2 linked regions of the Homo sapiens genome follow. The protein of the gene in region 2 interacts with the protein of the main gene of each other region in a pairwise test. Each region holds a gene or a part of one and is shown on either strand. Other genes may lie near its edges.

Evidence for each region. The genes of interacting proteins can lie anywhere in the genome.
Region 1: the proteins of GBP2 (region 2) and SERPINB9 interact in a two-hybrid assay, tested with the Homo sapiens proteins (one large-scale study listed by BioGRID and IntAct).

Annotation. Positions count from the first base shown.
Region 1 is NC_000006.12:2,893,310-2,896,809, forward strand, and holds part of SERPINB9 (serpin B9), read right to left. Parts: intron 2,882-3,500; coding exon 2,744-2,881; intron 2,200-2,743; coding exon 2,082-2,199; intron 245-2,081; coding exon 102-244; intron 1-101. UniProt on the Homo sapiens protein: Granzyme B inhibitor.
Region 2 is NC_000001.11:89,112,615-89,116,114, forward strand, and holds part of GBP2 (guanylate-binding protein 2), read right to left. Parts: intron 1,683-3,500; coding exon 1,402-1,682; intron 71-1,401; coding exon 1-70.

The sequences.
Region 1 (3,500 bases), on a different chromosome or scaffold from region 2:
TCCTTTTGGCTTACGCTTATGTCACTTACACTTTTACAAAGTTAAATCTTTCCATTCAACTTCTTCATCAAACTAGCAGGATTTTAAAAAGCTTCCCCCACCTGGTTTATTTTAAAGGGCATTTCCCTTGTGTATGTTTCGTCAAACGGTTCATTCCACTTTCCTTTGAAGTAGATGGCATTGACAAGAACCAGCCTGGTTTCTGCATCAATTGAGCTACCCGGCAACAACTCTTCAATTTTACCTTTCAAGAAAAGTAGAGACTACATTCAGTTGCTTTTTATAAGAACCTGATGCATTGGATGATCCTGGATCATTAGTTGAGAAGCAAACTTCTGTTTTCAACTTTGCTGAGTTTGGGTTGTTATGTAGAGAAATAAAAACAGCACATATGAGTGGTATTCATGATTACTGACACCTTGAGAACATCCACCAAGTTGAGGATGGTGAAAGATACCTAAGTCACTCGAGGAAAGCAGGTTGGTACAAAGTAGAAAAATTACACCAGGTTGGAGAACAAGACCAGCAGGAAATGTGATAGGCTGAAGGGGTGTTTGTCTCACATGGTTAATTGGAGTGTTTGATCCAACCCTTCATGATCACACCCAGTTCTAACATTCTGTGACTATACATGGACATGTCAGAAGCAACCAGAATGGACGGCTCAAAGCGGGAAGAGCTGACATTGGGCACATGGGGAGTTTCCAGAAGCTTTTGGAGGAGATATTCCTGCTGAATCCCCTCAACAAAGCACTAGGCATCCCTGGAAAAGAGGATGTGGGCAAACAAAGATCACCCCTTCTTTCCCTGGAGATCAAGTGGTACTGTTTCAATGAACTGAGGGCATCCCTGCTAACCCACTGCCTGAAGAGAGCATCCGTGGTAAATACTCCAAGCAGGAATGCGGGAAACAACTGCTGAGACTTTAAGCGAAGAACGTCTCCCATTCTTTACCGTCTCATTTATTCACAGAAATGGAAATGTTCCTGGTGGTACTAAGCATAATTGGCGCAGAGGAGTCTGAATGGTTCATCAGACCATCATTGGTCTTGGAGGCCTAGACTGGAACACGTCACTTTCTGAAATGTAGATGAATAAGGTTCAACCCCAAATGGAGGGTATTTTCAGTCTGTGGAACTGATCAGCCCTGAGAGAGGGTCGGCAGTTAACCAATCAAATGTAGGCTTATCAAGTCAAACTAAAGGAGCTTAAGTGGAAGACATGAAAAGTCAGGAGTGACCTTAGCAGGTAAAGGTAATGGTGATGGAGGTCCCCCAGAACCTAGGAAGAGGCAGCCCAAGTGTATACCTCAGGCAAGATCTGTCCACCAATCTCCTTCTCGCAGAGACAATGGAGTCACCTGACATGTGAATGTTACAGGCCAGGGAGAGTATATTTTAATGCAAGTTATTAAACTGGAAACCTGGCCTGAGATTCTTTTGACATTTGTTTTTTTGTTTGTTTTTTGTTTTTGAGACAGGCTGGAGTTCAGTGGCATGATCTCAGCTCACTACAACTTCTGCCTCCCAGGTTCAAGTGATTCTCATGTCTCAGCCTCCCAAGCAGCTGGGATTACAGGCATGGGCCACCACACCTGGCTAATTTTTGTATTTTTAGTAGAGATGTTGGGCGGGGGGGGGTCCCACCATGTTGGTCAGGCTGGTCTCGAACTCCTGACCTCAAGTGATATGTCCACTTCGGCCTTCTAAATTGCTGGGATTACAGGCGAGAGCCACCGTGGCTGGCCCTCTTTTGACATTTGTATCAGCTACTCTGGTCCTGGGAGAATAGACAAAAGTAAATCTCTGTTGCTGAAAACCTGAATGTCTGATCAGAACCTTTATGAGTCCATCAAGGTTCAGTATGCCAGGAGGCCCTGCCAGTCAACACTACTCTGACCATCTGAAACACCCGTGAAATTAGAGGGGGCGGAGTGGAGAGGTGGAGGTGGGTGAGGAGAGGGAGGAGGGATAGGAGGGAGAGGAGGAGGAGAGAGGATATAAGAGGCGGGAAGGAGGAATAGGAAGAGCCGCAGGAGGAGGACGGGTTGGGAGGAAGGTGCAATAACTTGTCATTCTGACCTTCGGTCTTTTTTGAGACCCAGGTGTTGATGTGTTTCCTGGACTCTTCTGCAGCTCTGATAAAGGAAAGCTCCTTCAGCTCAGCATGGTAGAATTGAAGACAGGATTCCTTAAACGTCTTTGGAGAGAAAAATGTTCAGTGAGGCTGCATTGCTAAATACAAATGTCAGCAAACTTCCAAAAATTCTAAATATGTTATCTTTTTTTAATAAAAAGAATATACATAACTCTTTAAAAGTGATCATATGAAGATATGTTAAAATATCAGAGTTTGTGAATAGGTATGTATTGAACCCTGAATAACCAGAAATGAACTTGAGAATTTTACCTTTCAATTTTACCTTTCAAGAAAAGTAGAGACTACTTTTGCAATACTAATGCAAGGTATAATTATAGAATTGCAGTCTTTAAAAAAAAAAAGAAGTTTAGGCTGGGCGTGGTGGCTCACATCTGTAATCCCAACAGGCAGGAGGATCACTTGAGACCAGGAGTTTAAGACCAGCCTGGGCAACGTAGTGAGACCCCATCTTAGAAAAAAAAATAGTGCAATTTTTTTAAATTGGTTAACATAAATTTCTCAATTTCTCTAGGGTCTTTCTCCCAGACTCTATATCACCAGGTATGTTGAATGCAACTTTTATTGTTCTATTGATTCAACTTACTGAGAGGAACTGACAAGTTTTCTCTCCAAAGAGCCTGTTGGCCGTTCTCAGCAGGTACTGTGTGCCAGCCTTGTTCACTTCAGTGAGAAGCGACTGGAAAGCCCGATGAATGTCTTCCTCTGTGTTTAAAGACAGTGCCTGTTGTGAAAGATAATTTTAAAAGTTATCAAGATAGCTCTTTGATGGCTGGGGAGAGGAGAGAGAGGGGACAGAAAACAGGCGAGTAAAAGATGTAGCCATTCTGCCTGAATGGATCTCGCTTGTTTAAAGATCAGTAACACACAAAAAATGACAAGGGTGAGAAAAGCTCAGAAAAGAGGTTGTGATAAAATCTTGCATCAAAAGGAAAATATAAATGTACCCTAAGTGGTGGGAAAATTACCTCTAAAATTTATAGTGAAAAAAAAAGATGCAGTTAAAAAGTTAAAAGCAGAAAAAATGCATGGAAAAATAGACGGAAATACAATCATCAGAATCCTCAAAAGGAAACAAGGATATTACATGAGCAATGTGATTAATAAGACAATAACACAGTTATTAAAATTGTACCCTATAGGGACTACATGTGTGTATATTAAATATTTCAAAATATATCACACATATTGGGCCATAAGAAAAGTCTCAACATCCCAATACATTCTGAAATACAGAATTATATAGATCATATTCTCTAACTTCAATGTAGTAACAAAAAATCAGCATTATAAATAAAATGCCAACAAAATGAAAATCACCTACAAAATATTACTGAAAACAC
Region 2 (3,500 bases):
CCATGCAACAATCTGATGATGCTTTGGAATTCTGCTTACAAAAGTCATCTCGCCTTGCTTCCAACTGGGCCTGTGAAGTGACAAAACAGCACAGATGTTTCAGTAAAGCCATGAGGAGGATGTTAACTATGTGGAGACTGGAAAATGCTTCTCCTTCAGAAATTGTGGCCCTCTAAATAGGGCCATGCTCCTCACATTGCTGTTAGATCCTAGAATATCCCTAAGTTGTGCTTATTGCAGAAATTTATCTACTTCTCTGTTTGTGATTTCCTAAAGCTCCTTTCTCCCAGTTTTCCTGTTTCAGAGAATGATTCTCAAAGCACATACACTATTTCATACGAAACTTTTATCTTTCCAAGTCTCTCATTTCAGGAATAGTTCTGAGCACAAACACTGGAGTCAGGCAGCCTGCCTGGAGTTCCCGGATACACTACACTGTGGCTTGTGACACTCAGTCTTTGTGAACTGAGGATTCCTTGTCTGTGCAGCAGAGGAACAATACCTATCTCACAGATTTCTCTGCAGGGTTATATGAGGTGATGTAAAGTATTAAGCCCGGGGACTTTTTAGAAGTGCTCAGTAAGGAGTACATGATTATTTAGTACATTCTTTAACATAAGAATATTTTTGTGTATTTTCTCAGCATAGGGCTAATGAAAGTAATGAAGATTGTGCCATAGGTATTTTCAGTATTTGGAAAGTCTCATAGAACAGCACATTTATCTACATTAAATCACTCAAGATAACTTAACTATGAAGCTTTCTCTTTCCTCCTTAGGTTGGAAGGGTGACAATTGCTGACATCGGCTATCTAGCTTCACCAGAACCTCTGACTGTAGCAACGTATCATTTATAAGATCCTGCCTTCCTAGCTAGGGAAAGGACTTTCATTTGTCAAGTGGTCATTCTGCATGCAAAAATACTTTGTTCACTTGGAATGAGGCAGACATTAAAAACATTCTCTAATAAAATTTATATAATTAATTTCTCTTTCTTGGCCTTCTGAATATTTTACCATTGGCTCACATTTAAAAAAATTATTAGGGTTATTTAAAAATAATTTAGTCCCCACTGATAATTACCAGGGAACATAAAAACAATGTATTTTTTAATTTAAAAGGACAAAATAAGTTAAAATAGTCTTTAACAATGCAGTTGTACCATCTACTTACTTTCTTAAAATATGGGACCCAGAGAGGAAAAACTAACAAAAGCAAATTTTAGTAAAAAATTAGGTGTCTTTTTTTAAAGGTCTAAGGCTATGCACATTCTAGTCTTTTAATGATTATTTCAAATATGTACACATAACTGAGTGTAACTATTTTGGGGTCTAGAAAGAATTATTTTCCCATGAAGGGCCCATATTTTTCTGCCTCTCATGACGTAGAACACCAAATATACCCCTAATTTCCTCTGGAACATTTGGTCCACATCCTTGAAAGAGTTCTTCATGAAGACTTCAATGGCCTCTCTCTCACTGTCCCTGTGCAGGTCCAGCAGCTCCTGGAGGGTTTCCGTGGGCAGCTGCACCTTCTGGCCCATCTGCTGTTCATAGTGGGCAATAGCCTTTTCCACTGCGGCTGAGTTCTCTATCTGGGCCAAGGCCAGGACTGCGTTCTCCATGCAGGGTAGATCCCCACTGCTGATGGCATTGACGTAGGTCAGCACCAGGCTCTCTAGACCTGCAAAAGGGAATTTTTAAAAAAATGTGACTATCAGTTGGTGGGACAGAATATTTTGTGTGCTTTTCAAGTGAGTGTCACAAATAATACTTTTAAATAAGTTTTGGATAAAGAATAGTAATGGAATAATTTGTTAACCTCTAATCACAGAGGAAATTGAAGTGGCTCTTTCCTATTTCCTTCACCCAAAAGGAAGATATTGAAATGAATAGGTTAGGATATTTTGGGGCTGAGATACTAGGTCAATGTGTTTTCTTACCTTTCTTTTCTCTCACCTCTCCCTCTATTCCCTTTCTCTCTTCACTACTAATTTATGAAAAAAGTCAATGAGAAAACTTAGCCTTTTTATTTTTATTAATTTTAGTGGTGCAGACCACTAGTCACTAGTCTGGTGTCTGGCTTAGGTAAATATGTCTTCTTAGATATTCTCTCATCAGAACTACAGATAGGATAATCAACTCATCGAGTTTGCCAGGGCTTTGCTGGGTGTAGCACTGAAAGTCTCACATGCCAGGAAAACCTCATCTTAGGCAAACTGGAGTGGTTGATCACACAACAAAAGATGATTCTTTTTGACTCAATCCTGGACCTTCTCATCTCTCTGCGGTTTTAAGTACCATCTGTATGGATGGCTGGTGTATTTTGTTTCCTGCTTTGACATTTCTTTTAAGCTTTGGATTAAAAATAAGTTTTGCACCTTATTTTTAATGCCTATCTTATATTCCTTACTGCATAAATCAGAAGAATCTCAATATTAAATAATCTAAATATCAAAACTTCATCCACTCTGAAAAACTATTTCTCCTCTTGATGCTACTATCTCATTAAATAACACAGCCATTCAAGCAATTGCTAAACTCGAAACGCTGGAGACAGGCTTGGCATTTCCTTCTTATTCCCTTCATAAATCCATATTCCCTCTATCAACAGGCCTTTTAGATTTAATATCCAAAGTATGTTCGGATCTTGTCCATTTTCACCATTTTCACTGTCATAATCTGAGACTAACCCAATGCCCATTTATGGCTCAACCACTGCAAATAGCATCCATCCTCTCATTCCCTCCCTTTCACTACTCCAACAAATTATCTACAAAATATTCAGAAAGATATGTATAAACATAAATTAGATAACCTTACCTCACTGCCAAAAATTCTTCAAGATCTTCTCTAGAGCTTAGACAAACTCTAATCTCCTCAAAGTCCTCTGCCAGTCCTTTCAAGACCTGACCCCTTTATACCCCTCCAATTATGACACCACTCTTATTCAGTCTTCTCTTGTTCCAATCGCCTGTCTTTCTTCTATTTTCGTTTAAAAAATTGAGATGGAATTCTGGTCTGTCACCCAAGCTGAAGTGCAGGGCATGATCATAGCTCACCATAGCCTTGAACTCCTGTGCTCATGCTGGGTCCTCCTGCCTCAGCCTCCTGAGTAGCTAGGACTCTGGGCAAGCACCACTGCACTTGGCTGATTTTTAATTTTTTCATAATGATGAGGTCTTGCTACTTTTCCCAGGCTGGTCTTAAACTTAAACTCCTGGGCTCAAGGAATTCTCCCACCTTGGCCTCCCAAAATGCTGGGATTACAGGCATTAGCCTCCTGTGTTCTATTTTCTTGAAGTTGCAAAGTTCTATCCTGCCCTATGCATTTCCACATTACATTATTTGCTATAAAGCTATTCCTCTATATGCTTTGGTTAGCTCTTAACCATTTATTTAATATATATATATATTGGAGACAGGGTCTCACTCTGTCTCCCAGGCTGGAGTGCGGTGGTGCAGTCTCCGCTCACTGCAACCTCTGCCTCCCAGGCTCAAG